7 linked regions of the Homo sapiens genome follow. The protein of the gene in region 3 purifies or fractionates together with the protein of the main gene of each other region. This does not show direct contact. Each region holds a gene or a part of one and is shown on either strand. Other genes may lie near its edges.

What was found.
Region 1: the proteins of SLC17A9 (region 3) and TMEM59L purify together in Homo sapiens (affinity purification with mass spectrometry; one large-scale study listed by BioGRID and IntAct). This does not show direct contact.
Region 2: the proteins of SLC17A9 (region 3) and MON2 purify together in Homo sapiens (affinity purification with mass spectrometry; one large-scale study listed by BioGRID and IntAct). This does not show direct contact.
Region 4: the proteins of SLC17A9 (region 3) and ACAA2 purify together in Homo sapiens (affinity purification with mass spectrometry; one large-scale study listed by BioGRID and IntAct). This does not show direct contact.
Region 5: the proteins of SLC17A9 (region 3) and XPOT purify together in Homo sapiens (affinity purification with mass spectrometry; one large-scale study listed by BioGRID and IntAct). This does not show direct contact.
Region 6: the proteins of SLC17A9 (region 3) and PCK2 purify together in Homo sapiens (affinity purification with mass spectrometry; one large-scale study listed by BioGRID and IntAct). This does not show direct contact.
Region 7: the proteins of SLC17A9 (region 3) and CACHD1 purify together in Homo sapiens (affinity purification with mass spectrometry; one large-scale study listed by BioGRID and IntAct). This does not show direct contact.

Annotation. Positions count from the first base shown.
Region 1 is NC_000019.10:18,611,435-18,615,669, reverse strand, and holds the start of TMEM59L (transmembrane protein 59-like precursor), read right to left. Parts: upstream 2,801-4,235; 5' UTR 2,712-2,800; coding exon 2,541-2,711; intron 1,799-2,540; coding exon 1,654-1,798; intron 1,567-1,653; coding exon 1,475-1,566; intron 1-1,474. UniProt on the Homo sapiens protein: Modulates the O-glycosylation and complex N-glycosylation steps occurring during the Golgi maturation of APP. Inhibits APP transport to the cell surface and further shedding.
Region 2 is NC_000012.12:62,469,826-62,473,325, reverse strand, and holds part of MON2 (protein MON2 homolog), read right to left. Parts: intron 2,626-3,500; exon of another isoform or gene 2,548-2,625; intron 1-2,547. UniProt on the Homo sapiens protein: Plays a role in regulating membrane trafficking of cargo proteins. Together with ATP9A and DOP1B, regulates SNX3 retromer-mediated endosomal sorting of WLS away from lysosomal degradation.
Region 3 is NC_000020.11:62,966,209-62,969,708, forward strand, and holds the end of SLC17A9 (voltage-gated purine nucleotide uniporter SLC17A9), read left to right. Parts: intron 1-316; coding exon 317-372; intron 373-494; coding exon 495-524; intron 525-1,128; coding exon 1,129-1,292; 3' UTR 1,293-3,377; downstream 3,378-3,500. UniProt on the Homo sapiens protein: Voltage-gated ATP nucleotide uniporter that can also transport the purine nucleotides ADP and GTP. Uses the membrane potential as the driving force to control ATP accumulation in lysosomes and secretory vesicles.
Region 4 is NC_000018.10:49,810,734-49,814,671, forward strand, and holds the start of ACAA2 (3-ketoacyl-CoA thiolase, mitochondrial), read right to left. Parts: upstream 2,801-3,938; 5' UTR 2,752-2,800; coding exon 2,736-2,751; intron 1-2,735. UniProt on the Homo sapiens protein: In the production of energy from fats, this is one of the enzymes that catalyzes the last step of the mitochondrial beta-oxidation pathway, an aerobic process breaking down fatty acids into acetyl-CoA.
Region 5 is NC_000012.12:64,428,392-64,431,891, reverse strand, and holds part of XPOT (exportin-T), read right to left. Parts: intron 1,844-3,500; coding exon 1,605-1,843; intron 355-1,604; coding exon 69-354; intron 1-68. UniProt on the Homo sapiens protein: Mediates the nuclear export of aminoacylated tRNAs. In the nucleus binds to tRNA and to the GTPase Ran in its active GTP-bound form. Docking of this trimeric complex to the nuclear pore complex (NPC) is mediated through binding to nucleoporins.
Region 6 is NC_000014.9:24,097,311-24,100,810, reverse strand, and holds part of PCK2 (phosphoenolpyruvate carboxykinase [GTP], mitochondrial isoform 1 precursor), read right to left. Parts: intron 2,609-3,500; coding exon 2,424-2,608; intron 2,337-2,423; coding exon 2,133-2,336; intron 1,763-2,132; coding exon 1,575-1,762; intron 1,254-1,574; coding exon 1,091-1,253; intron 817-1,090; coding exon 598-816; coding exon of another isoform or gene 506-597; exon of another isoform or gene 58-505; intron 1-57. UniProt on the Homo sapiens protein: Mitochondrial phosphoenolpyruvate carboxykinase that catalyzes the conversion of oxaloacetate (OAA) to phosphoenolpyruvate (PEP), the rate-limiting step in the metabolic pathway that produces glucose from lactate and other precursors derived from the citric acid cycle.
Region 7 is NC_000001.11:64,669,129-64,672,628, reverse strand, and holds part of CACHD1 (VWFA and cache domain-containing protein 1 isoform 1 precursor), read right to left. Parts: intron 1,066-3,500; coding exon 943-1,065; intron 1-942. UniProt on the Homo sapiens protein: May regulate voltage-dependent calcium channels.

The sequences.
Region 1 (4,235 bases), on a different chromosome or scaffold from region 3:
CACCACTGAACTCTAGCCTGGGTGAAAGAGTGAGACTCCATCTCAAATAAATAAATGAATAAATAAACTAACAGGAGAGGAGCTAGGAGAATTCACTTGGATTGGATGTGGCTAAGTGATTTGGGCCAATAGGACTTCTTATAGTGAACACAGATCTCAGCGTGGCAGTTGGCTTCCTGTGTACCCTTAGGGAAGTGGATTGTGCTCTCTGAGCCCTAAAATGGGTATCGTTCTCTTCCTTCATGGAGTAGCCATGAAATTTCAACTAGAGGATGCCTGCCAGGTGCCTGGCACGGCACAGGCACTTAATGCGTAGTAGTCCCTATTACTAAAAATATCATCATCCTCATTATTCTTATTTTGACAGCGTCAAGACGGAGGTCTGATGGCCGGCCATGGTGGCTCATGCCTGTAATCCCAGCACTTTGGGAGGCCGACGTGGGAAGATCACTTGAGGTCAGGAGTTCAAGATCAGCCTGGCCAACATGATGAAACCCTGTCTCTCCTAAAAATACAAAAATTAGCCGATTGTAGTGGGGGGTGCCTGTAATCTCACCTACAAAGGAGGCTGAGGCAGGAGAACCACTTGAACCCGGGAGGCGGAGGCTGCAGTGAGCCAAGATTGTACCACTGCACTCCAGGCTAGGCAACAGAGCAAGACTTCATCTCAAAAAATAAATAAATAAATAAGAGGGAGCTCTGAATTGGAAGGGCTGACAGTGCAGTGAGCTTTTCTGAACAGCAGTGAAAGCTGGGAAGGGGTGGAGGAAAATGGGGGAAGTGGGGAAAGGGCTTTCTGGGGAGTCCCAGCCCCTAGGTCTCTGGCTATGCTACATGATTTTCTGTGCCTCAGTTTCCCCATGATGCAGCATTGCTTGGACTACAATAGATGAACCGTTATTATTTCTCCCATAAGGCAGTGTGTGCGTGCTTGCGAGGCAAGCCTGCTCTACCCTGAGCCGCAGTTCTGAGCCCCTCCAGGTGACAGTGACCACCAGCTCATCACAGGGGAAGGGCTTAGACCAGCACCTGGCAGCTCTGGGGGCGCCTAAGAGGAGTGAGGTGAGGAGTGGCCACAGCTCTGGTGGCTTCAAATCTCGCCCCTTGCACAGCCCTGTGTATGACCTGGGAGGTTGCCCCCTGGGCACTAAATGGGGGTGACATTGTCCTTTGTGCCTCCAAGTGACACAAAAACATTTGGGACAGGTTGAAGTCAGGCCCGAACCAGGACAGATGTTTGATAAATGATGGCTGTTTTCTGCCACTTATTCCTGAAAAGGTGGTGGGGCATGGGGGGCGTTGTTGCATGTAACTAAGGCTGGAGACATGACGGGGCTGGATGGAGGTTGCCCTGCAGGCCTGGTATAGAACGCAGAGTCTGGCAGAGCCTCTGCACGTGAATGAAGATTTCCCACGGGGTGAAGAGGGTGGGGGTATTGGGAAAAGGGACCCCAGGCCGCAGTGGGAGGCCCACCTTCTGCTCCGGCTCAGGCTCCGCGGGCTGGCTCCAGCAGCCGTGGCTACAGGCCTGCTGCTCTGCCTCCTTCACATAGGCTTCCACGCAGGCTGTGGGAGGTGGGAGCGGGTGACTGGGGACGGCCCTTCCCAGGCCACCTCTCCCCACGCTGGCCCACCCTGCCGGCGGGCCCTCACCTGCTTCACACTCAGTTTGGGTGGCATTGGGCTTGGAGCTTCTGGCCACAAATCGGCAGATGGAGAAGAGGCGGCAGCCACGCTCGCAAGCGCTGATCAGAACGGCTCTGTCATAGGGAGACTCGGAGGCGCCCTCCAGCCCCGCCTGGGGGAGGGGAGGACAGGGGGCTCAGGCCATGGGGAGGGGCAGGAGGAGGGTGGGGGGACCGGAGCATTCAGCAGAGGCAGGGAAAGGCTTCCCCGCTCCCCACGACATCTAGCCAGATGGAGATGAAGTTGGGAGAGGCTACAAATATTAGTGGGGGCTCTTAGCTCTGAGGAGGGAGATGGGGAGGGAGCTTGAGAAGAGAAATGGACAGTGAAGGTGGAGAGAAATGAGCCTTCCCCCCACTAGGTTCCAGGGAGGAGGGGAGACATGGAGAAGGATTCTCAGACCTGGAGGAGGAGGGGGAGGCTCAGAGGAGGGGGTTTTGGTCACACGCAGATCAGGCTTGAATCCTGGGGAGTGGTGGTATGAGTAGGGGCTGGTAGCTCTGAGTGGGGAGGGAACACGATGTGGAGGAGGAGGAATGAGGTGGGGGGACCATCAGGCCTGAGGGAGCTGGGGGTTGGGTGCTAGAGGGTCCTTACCCAGCAGAGTGCGGAAGGAGCCCGGGAGGTGGTATCGGCCCCTTATCGCAAGGACCTGCATCCCCAAGCACTCCCCCATCAGAGGGAACCCCAGCCCGTCAACTACTGGAGAGATCTCCCCATTCCCGACCCCCACCTCCCCACGGACACCCCCACCAAAGTCTCCTGCTGTCATCCAAGAGAAGCCCATCCCAACGCCTCCTCCTTCGGAGAGATCCCGCGTCCCCCGCTGGCACCTGGCACCGCACGCGCCTCACCTGCGAGGGCTGCGGGCCGAGGTCGCGGTCGCGGCACCGCAGCTGGCAGTTCTGCGTGTCCCCGAGCTGGGGGGCGAAGGGATCGCGGGCGGACGGCGCGGAGGCGGCGGGCGGCGACGCCAACAGCAGCAGCAGCAGCAGCGGCGGTGGCATCAGCGCCACCGCAGCCATGGCCGGGCGGAACGCGGGGGGCGCGGGGGACTCCAGCTCAGGCCGGGCACGGAGGATGCAGCGGCTGCGGCGGGGACCGGGGCGCTGACGTCACCCGAGCGAGGCAGCCTGGGAAGCGGGGGGTGGGAGATGCGGAGAGCGGGCGGGGTAGCTGCGCTGCGGCACCCGAGGCGTGCGGGTCGGGCGGGGCAGGTGCATCGCGGCCCCCACCGTCTATCCCATCGCGGGGGTCCCAGGACACCTCCCTGGTGCCCACGGGCGGGGGATCTCTGCTGGCGCTTGGGGCCAAAAGGAAATATATAGGGGGATGGGATGGAGGGGACTATTCCCCAGGGGTGTCGAGGAGAGCGGAGAGCTTGGCGGAGGAGGCGACGTGTGAGCCGACCACGCGGGAGAGAGGAGAAAGGGGTGTCCAGGCTACAAGGATCAGCGAGGATCCTGAGAGAAAGAGCTTGTTGCAGGAGGAGGGAGGGCGATGGGGCTGGAGTCCAACCAGGGAACGGAGAGGGAGGAAGGTGAGAGCCGCAGGACCCGGCAGCTGAGTCCTGGCATCTTCTCTTTTGACACCCAGGTTAGAAAGGAGACAACTTGCGCGCAGTTTGCCTCCTCCGGGAAGCCCTCTGAGCCCCTCCCTTGCTCCTTCAGCCTCGCCTCCCTCTGGCCCAGCCCTGATCCACTGACCTAGGGAATCTGGCCCTGTCTCCCCAAGGCTGGAGACCCCTGGGCTGGGGCTTAGTGGGAGGGGACACAGAGGTATGCTCAGGAGCAAGGGGAGGGGGTGATGCTGACATGTCTAATTCTCATGGGAAAACGGGGCAAATAGCGACACTTCTGACTTCCATAACCATCACACCCCAGGGCGATGGACTGTAGCCCCAGGAGCCGAATCTCGGTTAGAGGGTACCCCCAGCTTCCTCTCCGCCAGATAAGGGAGTGGGGACGCCCCTCTAAACCCGGATCCTCTGCAAAGATGCCCCCGCTTTCGCTGGCATGCCTGGCGCAGGTGCCTGCAGCGCCGCGCAGCAGCCCGCAGGTCCCCCACCTACGCTCCGCCCCCGCAGACGGGGCGGCAGCCTCGCAGGGTCTGCGGGTTAGAGGGCGGCTCAGGTTTCGGCCTGGGAAGAGGGTGTCCCGGGTGGGGGCCCGGCGCACCCCCTACTCTGGCCTGCGGCCGCGCTTTCATCTCAGCGGCCCCCGGCCGGCCCCCACGTGGCTTAATCAGGCGCGGCTGTGCCTGGCGGACCCCGAACATCTGGATCCCGGTGCGGCCCCTCCCCCGCCCCGCCCCGCCCCTCCCCTCCCCTCCCATGCTAGGCCGCTGCGACCCGGCGGCGAGGGCCTCCAGCCCGCAGTTTGCGCCAGAATCCAGCAGGAGAATTCCGCTTCTAACCCACCCGCGCGCCAGGCCCGCACCTTGGGAAACAGCCCTGTGCGTTATGACCAATACTGTCCCCCATTTCACAGGTGGGAAACTTAGGCTCCGGGACGCGTTGGCAAAGTCAGGATTCAAGCCCACACATGCTA
Region 2 (3,500 bases), on a different chromosome or scaffold from region 3:
CCACCATTTTCCAGCTTTACTACCTTATGCAAATTACTAAACCTGTCTATACCAGTTTCCTCATCTGTAAAATGAAATATTTAATATGGCATGTTGCATTAGAGTCTAAGGATGCAAAGTTCCAAGCCTAGTGGGAAGGCAACATTTTATTCAACCTTGAGTTAACTTCATGAGACTAAAGGCAATTTCTCAATTATTTCTGTGTTCCTGCTGTGCTTTTTTAGGAGACTCATAAATTTCTGTTAAATTATAACAGTAACAGCAAAACCTTCTACTTCATACATGGTTGAAAATGTTCAGCTATGCTTACATAAAGGAAAAAAGAAAAATAAATCAAATTTTGAAATATGTCTTCCTTTTTGGCTTATAAGTTAGAGAATATGTCTTTTATTTTTTCTGTCACCAAAGCACAGGTAATCATTTATTTCAGTTTATAGCTTTCAATATATAAAGCATGAATATATTATATTACGCTTATGGGAGAAAGAACACAATGTCAAGAGGAAGAAACCACATTATAAAATACTAAACCAAAACAGATCCCAAGTAAGCTCGTAAAGATTATCCAGCCCTCATCTTCAATGTCATAAGGTCGTGCAAATGAGGTGTTAACCCAACCAGGAGAGCCAATGACATTAGTCACAGTCCCTAAATATCTGATTAAATGGCAAATCCTGTCACAGTAAGTAGAAGGCATCTCTTTCACTAGGGGTCTCCCTAAGCCAGTTAACAAAGCAAAACACCTGGATACTGAGGAACTCTATCACAAGAAACCTTTGCTTTTCTCTGCCAGCCAATTTCTATTAGGCCTGAATGGGTAACAGGAAACTTAAACTACATAGCCTAGGAAGACTACTTGCACTTTTAAATTATTTATACCCTTACTGATTCTGCATCATTTAAAAAGAGAGAAAAGGAATCTATCCAATTCCCTAATTCTGACCACCTAAACTCAAATGAACTTCTTTCCCTTTACTCTTCTACCACCCATTCCCTGGACTTCATCATCCTCTAGTGCTGGGCAATCTGAAATGCAATATTCCCACCATTGTCCCAACTCCTATCCTTCTAGCTCTCTCACTCCCCAACCCCACTGCTCTTTGATGAAATAGGTGCTGCTAGCCTTTAACCTTCCCATCATCATCCAGTCAATCCAAACTATTGGCTTTCCTTCTTTGGGAATCCAACCTAGCTCTCACAATCCACCATTATTTCAACCACTCTTCCTGCTAAGACTCTTAAGTGTTCCAAGACAATTTCTCCTCCACTTCTCCAAAGTGATCCACTGCTCTCCTCAAACTTGCCACCCCCTACTTCTTTTATCACTTAATTATTCCTACTAACAAGCTTGTTTCTTATCTTCGCAAGAAAGCAGAGGCCACAGACCAAACTGCCCACAACTTGTCGCTCCCTTCTGTCAAATTTGTCACATTCAAACCCGGTTTTTCCTTTGTCCTTCCTCTGTCAGAAGGTAATGTGTCCTTTCTCAGATTGAAATCCTGTTCATATACTTATGCCACTGAAACTTCAGTTTTCTCAAGGACCTTCCTCTAACGAGTTTTACCTTTCTCTCCTGTATCTTTAACCTCAGTCTGCCCAGCAGCCTTTTTCTTTAATGTTGTTTCCCACAGTTCCTTTTCCAGTCCTGATATTCTCACTCTATACACACACTCTTCCTGGCCCATTTCATCCAATTCTATGGTTTCAAATATTATTTATAAACTGATACTCCTAAATTTGAAATTCCAGACTTCCCTCTTAAGTGCCAAACCATCATTTTCAAACACCTACTGGTCAGTTCCACTTGGATGTCACACATAAATCTTAATATAATGACTACTCTGCTGGGTGTGGTGGCTCACGCCTGCTATCTCAGTACTTTGGGAGGCCGAGGCGGGCAGATCACCTTAGGTCAGGAGTTCGAGACTAGGCTGGCCAACATGGTGAAACCCCGTCTCTATTAAAAATACAAAAAATTAGCCAGGTGTGGTGGCACGCGCCTGTGATCCCAGGTACTCAGGAGGCTGAGGCGGGAAAATCACTTGAACCTGGGAGGCGGAGGTTGCAGTGAGCCGAGATTGTGCCACTGTACTCCAGCCTGGCAACAGAGACTCCGTCTCAAACAATATACACACATGACTACTCATTTTCCCCCAAAACATTTCCTCCTCTTTTATTTCTTCTCTTAGTGATCCACCTAGTTTCCCAAGCCAGAAACCTGGGAGGCATCACACATTTCTCTCTCTCCATTATATAAAAGATTACCATGCCTTGGTAATTTTTACCTTTTCAATCTATACGCTCTTTCACTACTGTCTAACTCAATGCAAGCAACCTTCTGTCTATGTCCACTACTGCTTCAAAACAGAGAATCATCATTTTTTAAACTTTGCTCTCTTTGCTTCAGTCTCAATACCCTCTAATTCTTCCTACCAACTGTCAAGGCAATGTTACTAAATATCAATTTGATCATATTACTCTCTTTCAAAAAGCTCTAATGGCTCCAATCATCTTCAGTATAAAATTTATTTTACATGGAATACTAACAACGTGTGCTATTTCCTCTGCTAGGAATGACTCCCCTCCTCCAACTTCCAGGCTCAGTTAGATACCCCTCATCTGTACCTGCAAATAGGAAATAATAAGAAAGTTTTTATTCATGAAATACATAAACATAAAGCTTCAGAGTTGTCTTCCTCTAAAGGCCACTGAATATTAATCACATAGAAGTGATCATGGAAGGCTTCAAAGTAATTTTTAAAACAAAGGAAAAAATTTCATACAATATTCCCAAATTAGCTAGTACAGTTGTACTAAAAAAAGTTATACTGCTAAAACATGAAGATTTATGTATAACAACTAAGAAAAATAGAAAAAAAGAGAAAGAGGTTATTATAAAATGACAGAATAAAGCCATAGCCACTACAACAACAATTTAATATACAAAGGATAGAGTTATAAATGAAAACAGTAAGGTAGGAAAAACCATGTAGAAGTCCAAAGACAGTAAGTAAATATCAGTAAATAAAGCACTATTCTTTATCAATACTCTTTTATTGGTTTTTCTAACAGATTTGAAATCTTTAAATCCAGCTTATTATTAATTTTAAAAAAGAATTACATGGGCAGCCTGGGATACGCCTATAATCCTAGCACTTTGGGAGTAGGAGGTGGACAGATTGCCTAATCGCAGGAGTTGGAGACAAGCCTCGGCAACATGGTGAGACCCTGTCTCTACAAAAAAAATACAAAAATCAGCTGCGTGTGGTGGCATGCACCTGTAGTCCCAGCTACTCAGGGGGTTGAGGTGGGAGAATCACTTGAACCCAGGATGTCAACGCTGCAGTGAGCCAAGATCCTGCCACTGCACTTCCAGCCTAGGTGAAAGAGATCCTGTCTCAAATAAATAAATAAATAAATAAATAAATAAATAAATAAATAAAATAATAGTCAAGCACTATGGCCATAAAAGACAGAAATGACTAAAAATTTGAAATAAA
Region 3 (3,500 bases):
TGCAGTGCTCTGGCCAGTGGGTGGTTGGGGCTCGGGTTGGCATGGTGTGCAGGGCTGCAGTGCTCTGGCCAGTGGGTGGTTGGGGCTCGGGTTGGCGTGGTGTGCAGGGCTGCAGTGCTCTGGCCAGTGGGTGGTTGGGGCTCGGGTTGGCGTGGTGTGCAGGGCTGCAGTGCTCTGGCCAGGGAGCAGGCCTGAGCGTGTCCCAGCCCCTCCCGTGGCTCCACGAGACCTTGCTTCCCCGCTTCCCCTGTGACAACCCTGGGCCACCAGCTCGGTGGTGGCCAGGGCCACTCACCACCCTCTTTCCTCCCCACAGTGGCATTTCTGTTAACATCCAGGACTTGGCCCCGTCCTGCGCCGGCTTTCTGTTTGGTGAGGACCTTGCCTTACCCCAGCTTTGCCCCTCCCTGGGCCTCCGGGTGGGTGAGCCATGGGGGATCCCGGAGGGCTTTTGCTGACCATCCATATTCTCTCTCGCTCTGGCCTCTTCACAGGTGTGGCCAACACAGCCGGGGCCTTGGCAGGTGAGGGGCGGGCCTCTGTGCCCAGGAGTTCCCCTGTCTGTGGGGTTTGAGGCCACCGAGGTGCTGCAGGGTGGGGTTGTGCCTCCCTTCAGAGGGGGTCCGGGTGTCAGAGGAGGGCACAGACCCCAGAGCAGGCCCAGGAGAGGAGGATGGGGCTGCCTTCCAGGTTCCACTGGACTTTGCTGACGGCAGGTGGCTCATGAGTCGCCATCTGCCCTGACTCACAGATATGTTCCCATCCTGGTAGCCCAGGGTCCCCGGGACACCTCCTGGCCCCGCTGAGTGCCATGGATGATGGGGGTCCTTCTTCAGCTCAGCCTCGCCTGGGCCGGCCTGTGGCTCCCATTTTCCTTTCAGCGGGACAAAGGGGACTTGTTACCAGGCCATTTTCTGGATGGCCTGTGAGATCTCTGCCCCTCCAAGACCCTCCAAGTCTGAGCCTGACCCACAGCTGGGACACTGAATTCAGCCCTGGGAACCATGGGGGCTCCTATCAGGCGCTAGACCCCCAGCCCTTCCCCTGGCACTACCTTGGGAACCAGGGTGGGGTGTGGGGCCTGGGCTGCCCGGGAGCACTCAGCCCGCCTGGCCCTCTCTTGGGCAGGTGTCGTGGGTGTGTGTCTAGGCGGCTACTTGATGGAGACCACGGGCTCCTGGACTTGCCTGTTCAACCTTGTGGCCATCATCAGCAACCTGGGGCTGTGCACCTTCCTGGTGTTTGGACAGGCTCAGAGGGTGGACCTGAGCTCTACCCATGAGGACCTCTAGCTCCCAACCCCACAGCCTCTCCAAGGACCCAGGCGCCAGCAGCCCCAGGACACAGGGGACTCAGTGTGTGGGACTTGGTCACTCCATGTCAGACACACGAGCAGAGAGGAACACAAACCACTGTGGAGCCTGAAGCTCCTTAAGAAGAGTCCACAACAGCTGGTGGGAGGGTGGGGTGGGCCTGGGTCCAGACCAGGCTCGCTGCTCTCTGGGCCTCAGTTTCCCCACCTGCCAGCGGGCTCGGCCCTGTCCTCCTCACAGGCTGGTGTGGCCGTCAGGGTGGGTGGGGTTATTGTTAGTAGGCGCAGCCTCATTCCCACCACGATCTGTTCCGCGTGGTTCCCGCCAAACCTCCCTCGGTCGCCGTGTTCTCCGCAAGCCTCCTGCAGCGCCCGCCTGCCAATGTGAGGCTGGCACCAGGCTGCAGCCTCCCCAATCCCAGCCCACTTTGCTGTGTCTCTGGCGGGCTGTCCTCCTTGGTGGGAGCTGTCCTGCACACTGTAGGATGCTTAAAGGTATCCCTGGCCTCCACCCACCCCTAGCCAGCAGCTCCCAGTCAGACAACAGCCAGAAATGTCTCCAGACTCTGCCCAGCCTCCCCAGGTAGCCACCCTCGAGACACGACCTCAGAGTCTCTGTGTCTCCTAGAAGCCTGACAGAGACCCCCAGGGCAGTGGGTGGGTGGCGGGCTAGAGACCCTTGCCTGTGTCCGGGACCCTGGCGCCGCTCTCCCCTCCTGTGGATCCCTCCGCACTAACAGTGTTCTCAGTGGGCAGACGCCTGGGCACCCCTTGGGCCCTGCCCAGCATGGCCATGGCGCAGGCTCTCGAACCCGCATGGCTTTCCCAGGCCTGGTGATTCTGCTCTCCAGGGACGGTTGGCACCTTCCTCGGGGGCGGGCCCCACGCACCCCAGAACACACAGACCCACCTTTCTGGCGTTCTTTCTACCTCCCTTTTCGTTGCCTGAGGAGCTGGTGGTTTCATGAGTTAATGATACATCTTGCAAGGTGTACACATAGAGAAAAAAACCTAAAAATGTGGAAAAGCACGCCAAAGCCTTATTTAAATAATAACTATTAAACTATTCAAAAAGAAGACTGTTATTTTATTTAACACCTTTGTTTTTTAAGAATGAACACGTGTTAAAGACTTTCTGTAACTAATTTCATGAGGAAACGAGTGACACGTTGGAATCAGGTCAAAGGAGAATCCCAGGAACGGACTCCTAGGCCGGGAGTGTTGAAATGAGCATGCCAGCAGAGCCAGGCTGGGTTTCGGGGTTCCTTTGCCGCCAGGGGTCCTGCGTGTCCACAGATGACAGCGATGTACCCTGCTATCAGCTGTCCACCCAGCTTTCCCAAGATGTGGGGCCCCCATGGAGTCAGACAGCCCAGCTGTGCTGTGGAAAGACAAAGTGGAGTTTTGCACTTGAGCACAAATGTTCCCCTACAATCTCTCCAGTTTCGGTCAGCCCAACCCTGTGGCACCATGGGTACAGCCTAGAGCATCACCCCCACAGAGGCTTCGGGACGGTCCTGCTGGACTGCTGGACGCTGCTGTGGGGTCTTGGGGCAGGAGGGGCTTCCAGAAGCCTGGCAGTTGCTGTCTGGAGGCCAGGAAGCCAAGCCCAGGAAGCCCACCTGCGGCTGAGTTCAGAGGTGGGGCCTGTGCGTTGTGAATGAATTGCTGTCTCTCTCCTCCTCATCTTGCACTAAATCTACATAACTTAAAATTTACCATTTTAGCCATTTTTAAGTGCACGGTTCTGTGGCATTAGGTACATTCGCATTGTGCAGCCACCGCCACCCTCCGCCTTCAGAACTTTCTCATCTTCCCAAACCGAAGCTCTGTGCTCATTAAAGGCTAGCTCCCCGTTGCTCTCCCCCAGCCCCGGCAACCCCATTCCACTTTGTGTCTCGACCGTAAGTGTGGCTGCTCTGGGACCAGTGCCAGTGGGCGCACGCTGGGTTTGCCTACGTCTGGCTTACTTCACTCAGCAGAGTGTCCTTCGGTTTTATCAGTTTTGTCACAAGTGTCAGCATTTTTCTCATTTTTAAGGCTGAATAAAATATTGTGTGGATAAGCCATGTTTTGTGTATCTGTTCACCCATTGATGGACCTGTGAACACGAGTGTGCAATTAGCACCTTTTATTTTTATTTTATTTATTTTTTGGAGACAGAGGCTCGCTGTCTCCCCCAGGCTGG
Region 4 (3,938 bases), on a different chromosome or scaffold from region 3:
CTGAAGTGCGGTAGTGTGATCTTGGCTCACTGCAGCCTCAACCTCCTGGGCTCAAGCAATCCTCCACCACAGCCTCCCGAGTAGCTGGGACTACAGGCGAGTGCCACCATGCTTGGCTAATTTTTGTATTTTTTGTAGAGACTGGGTTTCTCTATTTTAAAAAATAATTTGTTATTATTATTTTAAATCTTCATTTTAACAAATAATCTGGGATGTGCAGATAGACTATAAAGGTTTAAAGTTTTTTTTTTTTAATTTCATAAATTGTATACCATGTCAATTTTCATTTGATGTCAATTTTACGTGGATACTAAAAGGTCTAAAACTTAACAATCTTTAACACCAAACTGAAATCTCATTTGAACACCCTGAAAATTCAGAGGCTAAAAATTTCCCAAAACTGAAAGACAGTGAAGAGACCTATTAACCCAGAGTGTAGTGAGTCCAAGTAGCTCCAAGAAAGGCCCTGGAAAGATGTGCTGAGTTGACAATACAGGAAAAGCACCACTAGGAAAGAAACAGGAGCACTACCTTTCTATCACATTGTTAGGTAAATATTCACTTAGAGCAACTTCAGGCAGCAACGAGGGCAAATTAAGGAAAGCTGCGGTGGCATCCAGTTGTTTCAAGATTAAGGTAATTTAGCAGCCCTGTCTACTTGCCTTGAAAAAATACACAAACATTCCCAACAAAGCTAGGAGCAGTAGGAGAGCTATGATCTGTCGAGCGAAAACCTCCTGCCAAGTACTGGGATGGGTGCTAATAAAAACCTAGGAGCCGGTTCTTCTTGTTGACTGAAATCTGACAAATTAATGTTAATCCTTAACAAAATTTAACTCAAATGTGTCCTTTTCCCTATAATCAGTCACATGCTCTTCTTTCTTCCCACCCATCCTGCAAACACTTGGTATGCTGCTTGAGAGAAGTTTATCTTTAATGATTCTAGCTGGCCTGTAACATCACTATTTCAAGCTCAAAGCTTGGGTTCTAGTCACAGCCACTAACTACCTGTGTTATTATACACAACCACTTTACCTCTCTCGACATGAGTGTCCTCCTAATTGCTACAATAAGGAAATGGAAAAAAATACGATCACTAGCTCTAACACTACAGTAAATTGTACCAGAAATTTATAAACTTTATACTTCCTTAATACAGGTGTCAATGTGCATTTTTTTCCTTTTTGGGTTTATAGTATTTGTGAAATTTTCAAACAGGTCTGTATTATAAGAAAGGGTAAGAACCACTGATAAAATATTAAAATGATATCAGTAAAAATATTATTTCCTTTTTTAGAAGATAGCTCATGACAATGCACCTTTTAAATGAAGTGTAAATGCCTCGTCTAAAAAAAATTCACCACGCTGCTTTATGAAGTAAATGTAGTAAATTCAGTCAGGAAGGGCACTGGCAAATGAAATCCACGTTGCAGGAAACTGTAAACACTGCATTTGGTCCCAGAATACGGATTTTTCCCTTGATTTGTTCCCATGCCACTTTGGTTCTTCTCACTTTCAGATCCCCCTAACCAATGCTTAGCTGGCATCTCCACTTGGCTGCTTCACAGGCACCAAAAAGTTTTCTGCCTAAAACTGAATTCTCAATCCTTCTTTCCACATCTATTCCTTTCCCAATTTTCCTCACTCTGTAAAGTGGCATCATCATGAACACGGTTCATCAAACCAGACACTTTTCATCATTCTCGACATTTCCTTCTTATATTTACTCCACCACATCCAATCCACTTTCTATCAAATCCACCTCCAAATCTATCTCAACTCATCCCTCCCCTTTTCTCCCCAATTACACTGCCCCACACGAGTCAAAGCCATCATTTGCTGCTCCCTGGACCTCTACAATAGATCCTTAAATGGTCTCTTCGCCATTACACAGACCGCCCCAAATTCGGACAGAGTGGAAATCAGATCCTGTCATTACCCCGCTTTAAATCCCTGTATTGCCTTCCACTGAATTTGGAACAAAACCCCACCTTCTTACAGAGCCCACAGGGCCCTGGAGCACCAAAATGCTTGGTTCTTAGATCCTGCCAAGCTTTTTCCTGTCTCAGGGCCTCGATATGTATTCCACCTCAATGTTCTTCGACTCGTACATCCTTAAAGTAAGATTCCATTGACTGTGCCCACTTGTTTTGAAAAGGGAGTTTATTACACAGTTGTTTTAAACAAGTTCATAACCCTAGAACTTAGGTATAGAGTGACCGCTCTAATCTAAAGCAACAGAAGGGAAATGGGAGCAGGGCAGGTCTTCCAGCAGAACACCAGCTACCATTTCTGCAGGCCTCTCCATCGATTCACCCGGGGAGCCCTGACCACCGAGGCCGAGCGGCGGGCTCCTGTGCGCAGCTGCCCCGCAGCAGGCGCCCGCGGCCTATGGCGCCGCCCCATTTTTTCTAATACTTGGACTCGAACTAGTGGGGTCACTGTTAGGCGAAGAAAGGAATGACCTCCAAGGTCACATGCAAGCAAACTTTGGTCTCAACTAAACAGGAAATTGCACCGAAATCGCTGTCGCTAGCGCCTTACAAGTAAGGGTTTTCTCCTTAACCCAAACAAGCCTTTCGGGCTGGGTTTTTATCACGTCCGCTCCAAAACCGAGGAGGTTGAGTGAACTTCACCCCACGACCCCGACTCTCCGCGGCGGCCGGAAGCGGAGGCCTGGCCTGGGGAGGGCAGGACCCCGAGGGGCGAGGAGAGGAGGAGGGGGCTGCGCTCACCTCGGAGCAGAGCCATGGCGGCTGCTGGGTCGTCGGCGGCGCGGGTCTGTGGTGTGGGGGACGCTGAGCGGCCGCTCGCAATCACCCAGATTTCAAGAGCGTGGGTGGCGCCCCGAGAGCCACGCCCCTGCCCTTTCACCTACTTCCTGGGGCTCCTTGGCGGGGTCCCAGCGTAAGATGGTCCTACCCCACGCGTAGCGCTGCCCGCCTCACCCCAGCCCGAGGGAGCCCAGGGGACGGGGCTCGGATAGACCACAACGCGCCTTGAGAGCGGACTCTTTCCTCACATCCTCATTTTTAGATTTTCTCCGTTTCCAAACCGAGAGAATTTGGTTTGACACCTCTCACCCATCATATCCTAGCCCCGACAGGCGATGACTCTTCCCCTTTGTCTCCGCCAACACCCTAAACACTGGGCAGGAGCCAAGGGCTGAGGAACTTGGCGCGCGGGCGGCCGCGGCCGCCAGCTGGGGGCGGGACCGAACGTCCTGTGGGCGGGGCGCGGCGGCGGCGGCGGGATTGGCTGGGGCGGGCGGGTGCGCAGTCCGCTGGGCAGAGGCTTGGGCCGCCGAGCTGGACCCGGACCGGTTTTGGGTACTGTACTGGGGGCAGGGCAGAGAGGTGGGCGGCAGTTGGGGTGCGGTGATTGTAGTAGGCTAGGGCGCTTTCGGGTCCCCATTGCAGCCCCCGGATGAGCCCGCAGTATTTTCCTTATATGATCAGGTCCCATTGCGGGCGGCGCCGCTTGCCCGGAGCCTGAGAGGATTATGAAAACGTGGCGAGCGAAATGGGGCCAGGGGACCTGGAGCAGGGGCGTGAGGAGAGTAGGCAGCGGGTGAGGCTGGACGGGAGGGAGGTCTAGGGAGGCCTCTGCCGCGGGCACTGTGAGTCCTGGCCGATGATGACGAGACCACTGCGCAATCTGAGTTCTGGGAACCAGGTGATGGAGTATGTTCTGAGAACAGACTGAGGCCGGGCAAGCAGGAGGCGGCCGCGGCAGGGGAGAGGCGGAGAGCCCCTCGATACCAGGGCTCGGAGGGCCGGGCTGCCTAGCGAGGGCTTCTTTTGAGTGCGTAGGGGTGGTGGGTGGCATGGACGGTTTCTCTGAGTCGTCAGCGAATGCCCCCCCTAGAATCCTGCTTTTCAAACACTTTGGTGACACTCTTGCAATGTTGGGGTGTTTTTAAATCCAAATTTGTATTA
Region 5 (3,500 bases), on a different chromosome or scaffold from region 3:
GAAACATGTCTGAAGATAAATACATCTGATCTTCAAGAGATTTTCAGAGCTCTGAAAGTTTGCGGTACCTTGAATTTGGCCGTAATCTGGTTGATAAGAGGAATGAACTCCTGGAGATCTTTTGCTTCACAATCTTTGAGCATATGTTCTGAAGCAGATGGAATGAACGGAAGAACTTCTTCCTCCAGGCAAATAATCATTCGATGAAGGAAAGTACGGACTCCACTTCTGAGAATATCCTTTTGTAAGGGACAACTGAGGGCTGGCAAGAATGTCTGTAAACAGTCCAGATAAACTTCGGAACAGCCACATTGTTTCACAGTCTGTTTGTTGCTGAAAGCTTTACTGGTTCGACTATATAAGCAAAAATCAGGCAATCAGATGCAACTTTATTCTTTAAAAGTGTTATGGAGTATTCAAAAGCAATGCACAACAAATTACAAAATTAACAAAACTAAATAACCAGACCTTTATTTTCCACATCACAATTACTTCCATCTTTAGCTAATATGGCTATTTGTAAACTACTGCTTCCAATGATCTTTCCAGAACAAAAGAGCTCAAATTAACTTAAATGAATGACATGTAGTTAATATAATCCTTCTAATGTGAGTCTACCTAAATGTTTTATTAAAATCCTATTGACTGGGCTGGGTATTGTGGCTCATGCTTCTAATTCCAGCACTTTGGGAGGCTAAGGCAGGCAAATCACTTGAGGCCAGGAGTTCAAGACCAGTCTGGACAACATGGTCAAAACCGGTCTTTACTAAAAATAGAAAAATTAGCTGGGTGTGGTAGCACATGCCTGCAATCCCAGCTACTTGGAGGCTGAGGCACAAGAATTGCTTGAGCCTGGGAGGCGGAGGTTGCACTGAGCTGAGATCACAACACTGCACTCCAGCCTGAGTGACAAAGCAAGACTGTGTCTCCCCCACAAAAAAAAGAAAAAAGAAAAAAAAGAGAAAAATCCTACTGACAAAGTGGACAGAAAAGAGAAAATAAATCCACTTATTATGACTAGGCCTGTACTAGGTAACCTGCAAACCACCCATTTAAATTTAGAAAACCATCTTCAGAATTCTTTATACAACCTCTCTAATATCTAGCTCTTGTTCTTAAATATATTATAGAACAATTTAACTTCTAAATTAGCAATCTTTACAACTTTCATGCTGTTGTTTGTCAACAAAAAGTATGGCTAGAGGCGGAAAAAACAGCTGCTTGGGTGATCTTCAGGACACAATACAACTGAAGAGAAACCTCACGCTCTTCTCTTTAAGGTAACCAAGACTAACCAAAGATGTCCCGTCCCAATATATATTTGGTATATTAACACTTCAGCTGATCCTCTTAAACACACAACCCATTTATATCAGAGAAGTCAGAGGAGTTAAAGATTTACAGTTGTCAAGGCAAAAATGTAAATGGTATGTAACCTATCCCCTTCTTCAACCAAATCTAACTGACTGGATTTGGAGGACAAAGATTTAGACAATTCTCTGGATTATCCAACTGTGGAAACACAAATGTGTGTGCCCACCAAACAAGTGGTTCTGTCTGTGTAGATACATGCACTTTATAATTTTAACTGTGATCACACTTACCTTGCAAATCCAACAGCATGGTTAAGACAGTCTGCTAGAGAGGCTTGCCTTTCTTCATCTTGTGCCAGCATCAACTTTTCTAACAGAATTTTAAACTTCTCCATTAGTGGAGTCAACAGATTCCTCATTAAGGCTTGTTTCCTTTCTGCCGGATATTCACTATTAACAATCAGCACTCCAGCTGTCTCATAAATAAAAAGTTGATCATCGCTGCTCAGTAAGGACTGGTGGCCATTCTCCTAGAATGAAATTCAGTCTTATTAAAGCTTTTATTTTTTGAGTTCCCTTCATTTAATGAGAAAAAGTGCATTAGGAACAGGAAATGTAATCTATCACACCAACTCATATGTCAAATACTTATAAAGACAAATTTTCTCCCAGGACCATAGAATGAAAAGAAAACTAAATTAGAGGTCAACAGATCACGGTTCTAATTCCAGCCCTGACAAGACTCTATAAATGATCATGTAAGATAATTATTAAAGTTAGCTTTCTAACTTGTTTTCTTTTGTAAAGATCTTATTTATATAAGATTGTTATGAGGCTAGGCTGCATGTGGTGGTTCATGCCTGTAATCCTAGCACTTTGGGAGGCCGAGGCCGGCAGATCACTTGAGGTCAGGAGTTCGTGACCAGCCTGGTCAACGTGGTGAAACCCTGTCTCTACTAAAAATACAAAAATTAGCTGGGTGTGGTGGCGCACCTGTAGTCCCAGCTACGCGGGAGGCTGAGGCAGGAGAACTGCTTGAACCTGAGAGGTAGAGTTGTAGTGAGTCAAGACCATGCCACTGCACTCCAGCCTGGGTGACAGAGCCAAGACTCTGTCTCAAAAAAAAAAAAAAAAGTACTAGAGTGCTATACTTCTTTTAAATAATTAAGTAACAACACACAGTAAAGCATTATTTTGCATGTGTCTGTAAGGGTGTTTCCAGGAAAGATTAGTCAGTCCAAGTAGACTATGTGGGGAAGACCTGCCCTCAGTGTTGGCGGGCACCATCCAATTGACCAGGGGCTCTGAGAGAACAAATACATAAGGCAAATTGGTCTCTCTCTGAAAGGTGGACAGACTTTTCTTCTGCGGCCTTGAACATCAGAAATTTGACTCTGCAAAAGTACATTACACACAGCATTAACTGTGTGTGTAAACACTGCATGTACACAAGAAAGGTCCTTTCTGTACATCTGCATCTGTGAAACATAAAATTTCTTGTGATCTCAGTTCTTTGGGTGACTGCATATGTTGTAGTGACCCATTGCCGTTTTTTATCAATTTCCTCAAGACTTAGGTTGTCTGTCATGGTTATTTCAGATGAGCGCAGTTATAAAGCAGAGTGGCACACAACTACTAACCATAGTGACATGCACTTACACATTTTGCTTTCTGATTTATGAATACAGTTTGTCTGCTCCTGTTTTACACATGTAACTGTCATTTTTATAACTGTTTATGCTTGCAAAAGCATGTTATTATTGCCTATTTTATTGTGTAAAGTGGCCTATGAAGTGCTGTCATGTTTTTACATGTTTCTCAAATACATTCCCTTTTAAAAATGTAAAGTAATATCTTTCAAATAATTTTTTAAAATTACTTTTTCCAGGATTATATTTTTAAGATTTTGATCTTTTAGAATTGTGGTTTTTAGGATTTCAGGATTTTAACACTTGGGATTATGGCCCAATCCCAACACCAAAATATTCAGATCGACTAGCACTTAATTTTTTTTTTTACCCTAAGCCTGAAATGACAGGGAAAACCTTCGATCTAACAGTAGCAGCTGCTAAGAATGGCTAATACAATTATAGGATTAAACAGAATAATTTAGAAGTTGAATTTTTTAAATTTTTATTTTCTTTTGGTTTTTAAAATTTTTAATATACTTTTCATTTTAACAGCAAG
Region 6 (3,500 bases), on a different chromosome or scaffold from region 3:
AGGATTGGGGTGAATGCTTTGGAGGGACAGGGGAAGGGTGACGGTAACAATACTGACCTTTAGACAGTGGTTATTATACAGGGGACAGTGGGAGCCAAGTGGCAGGAGGAGAGTTGGAGCAGAGGAGGCAGCTTTCCTCTTTTCCTAATGGGCCAAACTTTATGGATAGTGCTTGGAGCCCAATACCTTCTGTAAGAATGTTCAAAAGTCCTTCCTTTTCCTTTCATTAAAAAAAAATCCAGCCTGTATTTATTATTGAGAATTTACTGTGTATTTGTCAGTGTGATAAACCCTTTTTATGCACTATTTAATCCTCCAACAATCTCATGAGATAGGTACTATCACAACTACCCTCATTCAACTGATGTGGAAACTAAAGCTTAGGGAAGTTGAGCAACTTAGCCAGATCACAAAACCAGTGACTGGTGGAGTTGGGACATGAACTGAGATTTTGCCTGGGACTGGAAACTGCAAACGTTCATGACTTCTGTGCCTCCTGGCAGTCCTAGAAGATGGTTGGAGGTTGTGGAGAAAGCTTTTCCACCATTAAGGTGCTGAGGCCTGGAGGCTGTGCCACACCTTCCCCACCGCACATACCAGGTTTCCAGGGTTTGCCCAGCCAGGAGGTCACAGTAACACCAGGTGGAAGAGGCTGGTCAATGCCCTCCCAGTACACGCCACCATCACTGGTCTCAGCCACATTGGTAAAAATAGTGTTACTCTGGATTGTAGCCATGGCGTTGGGATTGGTGGTGGCAGAGGTACCAGGGGCAACCCCAAAGAAGCCGTTCTCAGGGTTGATGGCCCGGAGTCGACCTGTTAGGAGAAGTGAAAGAAAGGAAGGACCAAACAAGGAAAACTTGAGATGTAAGACCAAAGAAGGTCCTGCTCCACCCACCCCTGTCCTGAGATGGACCCAAGATCTGATGAGGAAAGGCTGTCTCTCGGGTGGCTGGGCTGCCAGAGGAATGGAGCAGGGTTGGGTGTTCAGGAAACTTTCTCACTGACAAAGTCATTGTGAACACTAGAGAGGAGACCCCGAGGCTCTGACAAGAGCCAGAACCAAGAGTATGATCTGAGAGTCCCTCACCTTCACTGTCAAACCTCATCCAAGCAATATCATCCCCCACACACTCCACTTTCCAGCCTGGCAGTGCAGGCCGCATCATAGCCAGGTTGGTCTTGCCACAGGCACTAGGGAAGGCGGCTGCCACATAGCGCTTCTTCCCTGCAGGGCTGGTGATGCCCAGGATCTGTGCATTGGGGAGAGAGGGAATAAGAAAGAGGTCACCAAAAGTCAGGGCATGGTCTGCATGGGGAAGGGCAGCTAGGGTCTAATAGGGAGGACCAATGTTTATTAACTATATAAGTGATTGCCCTGCCATCAGGCCTGGGTTAGTGGCAGGGGAAACCTCAACATTCAGCAGCCTGAGGCCAAAGCTTTGGGCCTTCAAGTAGAGTCCCCGCCCACCAGCCTGGCACCTGGCAGGAGGGAGGTGAGGCTGAGGCAGACTGGCCAGGCCCCACCCCTGCCCTGTCCCCGGCAGCTGCCCTGCTTCTCACCAGGCCCTCACCAGCATGTGCTCTGCCAGCCAGCCCTCATCCCGGGCCAGCCGAGAGGCGATGCGTAGGGCAAAGCACTTCTTGCCCAGCAGGGAGTTGCCACCATAGCCGCTGCCGAAGGAGATGATCTCCCGCTGGTCGGGCACGTGGCCAATCAGGGTTTTCTCTGGGTTGCACGGCCACTGGCTCACTGGCTCCCCTGGGGACAATGGGGTCATGGGGCTGCTGGCAGCAGCATCAGGAACTGGGGTGTCGGGGCCAGAGGGATCAGGGATTGGCAGGAGAGACACTTGGGAGCAGTAGCAGCACCAAGAGGTGGCTGAAGCCCCCCACCTCATAATAACCATCAGCTTCCATGCCCCTATTCTTGGACACGGATTTTTCTCAACCTAGTGCAAAGTGCTCTGCAAACACAGCCTTATCCCTCTGCTGGGACTGCTGCTCTGGATCTTGGGAATTAGGTTGCCAGAGAGGACAGGTTCTTAGGGTCTGTGGAGAGGTAGGATTTGGGATTTCCTCTGAGTACAAGAAGGCCTCTGTGTTCCCCTTGGGGCAGAGCAGGTGCTTACCTTGTCCTGTCAGGGGCTGGCCCACGGAGTGCAGACACTTGACAAAGTCACCATCTCCCAGGGCCTGAAGCACAGGTGTCCCCAGTCGGGTCATAATACGCATGCTTGCCACCACATAGGCTGAGTCAGTGAGCTGCACCCCGATGCGGGACAGCGGGGAGCCCACAGGACCCATGCTGAATGGAAGCACATACATGGTGCGGCCTGTGGAGGAAGGCATCCCCTGGATGAAGGGTTCCAAACCTGTTCACATCTTCCGTGCCCTTGCCACTGTGCCCCTGCCCTGGTTACCCTGCATGCAGCCTGGAAACCTCTCATCCACAGCTCGCTGGAAATCAGCTGGGGACATCCAGTTGCCCAGCTGCCCACGGGCCCCACCAGGCGGGAGTGGTACCGTGTCCCGCTGAGAAGGAGTTACAATCACCGTCTTGCTCTCTACTCGTGCCACATCCTTGGGGTCTGTGCGGGCCAGCCAGCTGGGGGAGAGGGGATTGTCAGGAAGATGGTGGCCAGCAGGTTTCCCTTGTCCCTAGACCCACTTTTTCAAGTCCAACTTTGACTCCAGGTCTTCTGTTGGCCTTATGTTTCCCCACCCAATCACATCTCAGTCCCTTCCTCCAGGCTTTGTCCCATCTAAGGGGTGTTCCCCAAGGTCCCAGCCCTCTGGGGGTCTCTGCCCCTGGCAAAAGCTCCCTGAACTGGTGAGGAAAAAAAAAAAAAGCAAAGGATCTTATTTATATCAGCTTCTTCATTTAACATTAAAATAAAATACAAACTACAAACTAGGCTGGGCGCAGTGGCTCATGCCTGTAATCCCAGCACTTTGGGAGGCTGAGGTGGGTGGATCACTTGAGGTTAGGAGTTTGAGACCAACCTGGCCAACATGGTGAAACCCTGTCTCTACTAAAAATACAAAAATCAGCTGGGTGTGGTGGCGCATGCTTGTAATCCCAGCTACTCCGGAGGCTGAGGCAGGAGAATTGCTTGAGACAATTCCCCGGAGGCAGAGGTTGTTGTGAGCTGAAATCATGCCACTGCACTCCAGCCTGGGTGATACAGTGAGACTCCATCTCAAAAAAAAAAAAAAATCCCAGTTTCTTTCTTTTTTTTTTTTGAGACAGAGTTTCGCTCTTATTGCCCAGGCTGGAGTGCAATGACGCGATCTTGGCTCACTGCAACCTCCGCCTCTTGGGTTTAAGTGATTCTCCTGCCTCACCCTCCCAAGTAGCTGGGATTACAGGCATGCGCTGCCATGCTGGGCTAATTTTTGTATTTTTTTTTTTTTTTTTCAGTAGAGACGGGGTTTCTCCATGTTGGTCAGGCTGGTCCCAAACTCCCGACACCTGGTGATCCACCCGCCTTGGCCTC
Region 7 (3,500 bases), on a different chromosome or scaffold from region 3:
AAGTGATGATAGTACTGAACCTTACATATACAGGTTTTTCCCTATATATATCTACCTGTGATAGTTTAATTTATAAATTAGGCCCAGTAAGAGATTAACAACATTAACTAATAATAAAATAGAACAATTATAACAGTAATAAAAGTTATGTGAATGTGGTCTTTCTGTCTCTATAAAAATATCTTATTGTATTATGCTATGGGTAACTGAACCCTCACAAAGCGAGACCAAAGATAAGAGGGGGACTACTATATTTGATCTATATTTGATAGAAACAATAAATGAAGCTAGAACTGCTTTAATCAAGACTATATTTTGCTTTATTTTACTTTACATTAGTGATATCAGTTTGCCAGGAATTCTGCATTTCCCCATAAGGGCCAATGACACGAAGCATGAACCATGAGGTGGAACTAAGAAAGCTATTTTTAAAAGCAGCCTGCATTAAATCAAGGGTATGCCCTTGCTTTGATCAGACAAGTTCTTTTGAAATTCAGGAGGCAGAGACTTTTGGTTCCATGGTCTCTTTCTGGGGAAATGTAAAAGGAACAGTCTAAGCAGCTGAAAATGTCACAAAGACTTTGGTTTAATGACAAAGTTAACATCAAAAGTCCTACCCAAGAGTCCTCTCTGGTCTTTCTAGTACCAAAGATATGGGAAGCCTCTAATTACTGACTTCCAGGGAAACAAGAGCTTTTGGTGCATTCCATGCTACAGTTATTTTTCTTGTTGTGTGCTGAGTCTGTCTAAATCATAAACAGTATGCATCTCAGAAAAACGAAAGAAGAGAAAAAGAACAAAAACCTTCTTAATAGGACACCCAGGCCATAAATTAGATTTCTATTCCTGACCATAACTATGCGGTTCCCATTCAACTAGAGATACCTGACATCTATTTTTAAACTGCAGCTAGAAAGGAAATAGCATCCCCAAAGCACTTACCTTATTTTGTTGCCACCATCTTGGTTACAGACAGGTAATAGGTCCATCAGAACTTTGTAGAAGTATCTGAGTGTGAAGTCAATGCCCATCACAGCCACAGTGTGCCCAGAAGACAGCTGTGTACTTTAAGTGAAAAAGATCAATGAGAACAATAGGCATGGCTTATTTAAGGATAAAAGCTATGTTCAGTCACAGGGACATTGTTTGGTATTAGAAATACCTTCCCACTGTTCCTCCCTACTTTTCCCACCTACAAAAATGATCAACTAAGTGACTGATTTAACACAACATGGAAATTTTATGAGAGAAAAAAATTTAAGACTTAATGTAGGACTGTATAAATAAGAGTGGCCCAAAACCTGAGCAGCTGTGAAATATGACGTTCAGAGAGTGGCTCGACTGACAAAAATATGGGCACAGAGGCATCAGGTGGGAGGTTGGATGCATGACTACTACAGTTACTTCCAACAAACCTCTAGATAAAAAAAAAATCCCCCTTAGCAACACCCTTATTATTTACTTCATTTTTTAGATAAGAAAACTGAGATCTCACAAAGGTTAACTGAGTGGCTAAGGTCATACAAAACTTAGGAGGAACAATGTCTAGTCCAGTTTTTTTCCCACAACATTAAGGTTGACTCTACTCAGAGCACAGCTCATATTCTAGAACAAGACTCTCCTGGTCCATAGGCCAGTGCTTTCTCCATTCCACCCTGCTACTCTCAACAGCCAAGGAAGAGAAAATTGGGCAGTAAAACACGGTGCTAACTTGTTTGGCTCTGGAATCAGCAGATCTGAAGTCAAATCTTGGCCCTGTTGCTTTCTATATATGTGGCTTATGGAATGCTGTTTCACCTTTCTAAGTTTCAGTTTTCTCACCTGAAAATGGATTCAATAATAGTACCTACTTTATAAGGCTGTTATTGGGATTAAATGAGATGGTGTATTTACAGTGAACACCTAAAAAAATAGAAGCTAAGCTAAAGAAAACTAAACAGTGAAGTTGAGCCCTCAGGCATGAGTTGACAATAAACTTATTACTCTTTCAGAGAAAACGCACTTCAAGAAATTGCTAGGTGTGTCAGAAGTGTGGACTTCTCACTTGGAACCTTGGCTGTTTTTAATCTATGCTCATGGGTAACTGGGAGGGCATGTGCTACTTGACCAACGAACTCCCCATACTCTTGTGGCTGAGAATTTGCAGTTTACCCAACATAGGACTTTCTAAGAGCCTATTATTTAGCATCACCCACCTGCCTAATTTCTTTAATCACAAAAACCTTAATTATTTCTCATAGCAATCTTAAAAGGCATTATAATTTCCAGAAAACTAAAGCTTGGGGAAATTAGTTATTTGGCCAAGGTCACATAGTGAATAACTAGTAGAAGCAGAAATGTATTTATCATTTTTGTAAGAGATGGGGTCTTGCTATGTTGCCCAGGCTAGATTCAAGCTCCTGGGGGCTCAAGTGATCCTCCTGCCCCAGTCTCAAGTAGCTGGGACTACAGACACACAACAATGGGCTGGTGGAAGCAGGGCTTTAAACTTAGTGTCTTCAACTCCAAAGCATATACCATGAAGTTGTACTGCCTTCTTAGATCTGCAGAGCATTCAAGCGTTTCCAAGCAACTTTACACTATTTAACTATCTGTGAAAAAGCCATAAAGGAATCATAGTTCCCATTTTATAAATAGAAGATTAGGCTGAGAAGGGCAAAAACACATAAGATAGATTAGACCAGTACCCACACCTGGCTCTTTCTACAACCCTACAGCTACCTCGGTGAAAAATAGCACTTAGGTGTTTTGGTATAAGGTAATTTTATTTCTAAACTTCTCTTGTATAACTGCCATCTGCTTCAAAATGATAAACATGCTAAAGCAACAGCACGTATATTGCCTACATAAATCTAGGATTCATATTTTCACCTGCATTTCAGATGGGTACACTGTTACCATAGCAACTCATAAAGAATGATACTGGAAAAAAAAAAATCACACCAAACCTATATTTCTAAGTACAACAGACCAGGCTGTTTGCAATACTTCCGTGAGATTTTCACAGCCAAAGACACATCTAACCAGTCCTTTACTCAATGATTGTACTTCATCTCTAGCAGCACCACCCTTCTCCAAAGAATGCAAACCCAGATTCTCAGGGCACTAAAAATGTGTATGAAAGAATCACAAGAAAGCTTACTATGAGTAACTGATAAGTGAGTGTTGAATTAGAAAATGCCTCTAATTCTCAGCCAAACCACTGAAAACTGAGTTCATGGGACTGCTTCATGACAAGCTGAAGATTAGCTTAAGCTTTCTCTTCTGACCTGCTAAAATGTCAGAACTTTAAAACAAAAATAGCATGATAAAAATAACTGCCATTTATTTGGGACTCGACCTCTTAAGTACAGTACTAAGCACTTGACATGCATGCATCATCTCTAATTCTCATCCTATCAGTTCAATGCAGGTATTACAGCCTCTGTTTTACATATGAAGTCAGCGAGGTCACAAAACATTATTATAAAAGTGCTTAACATTTATTGAGCCCTTACCAG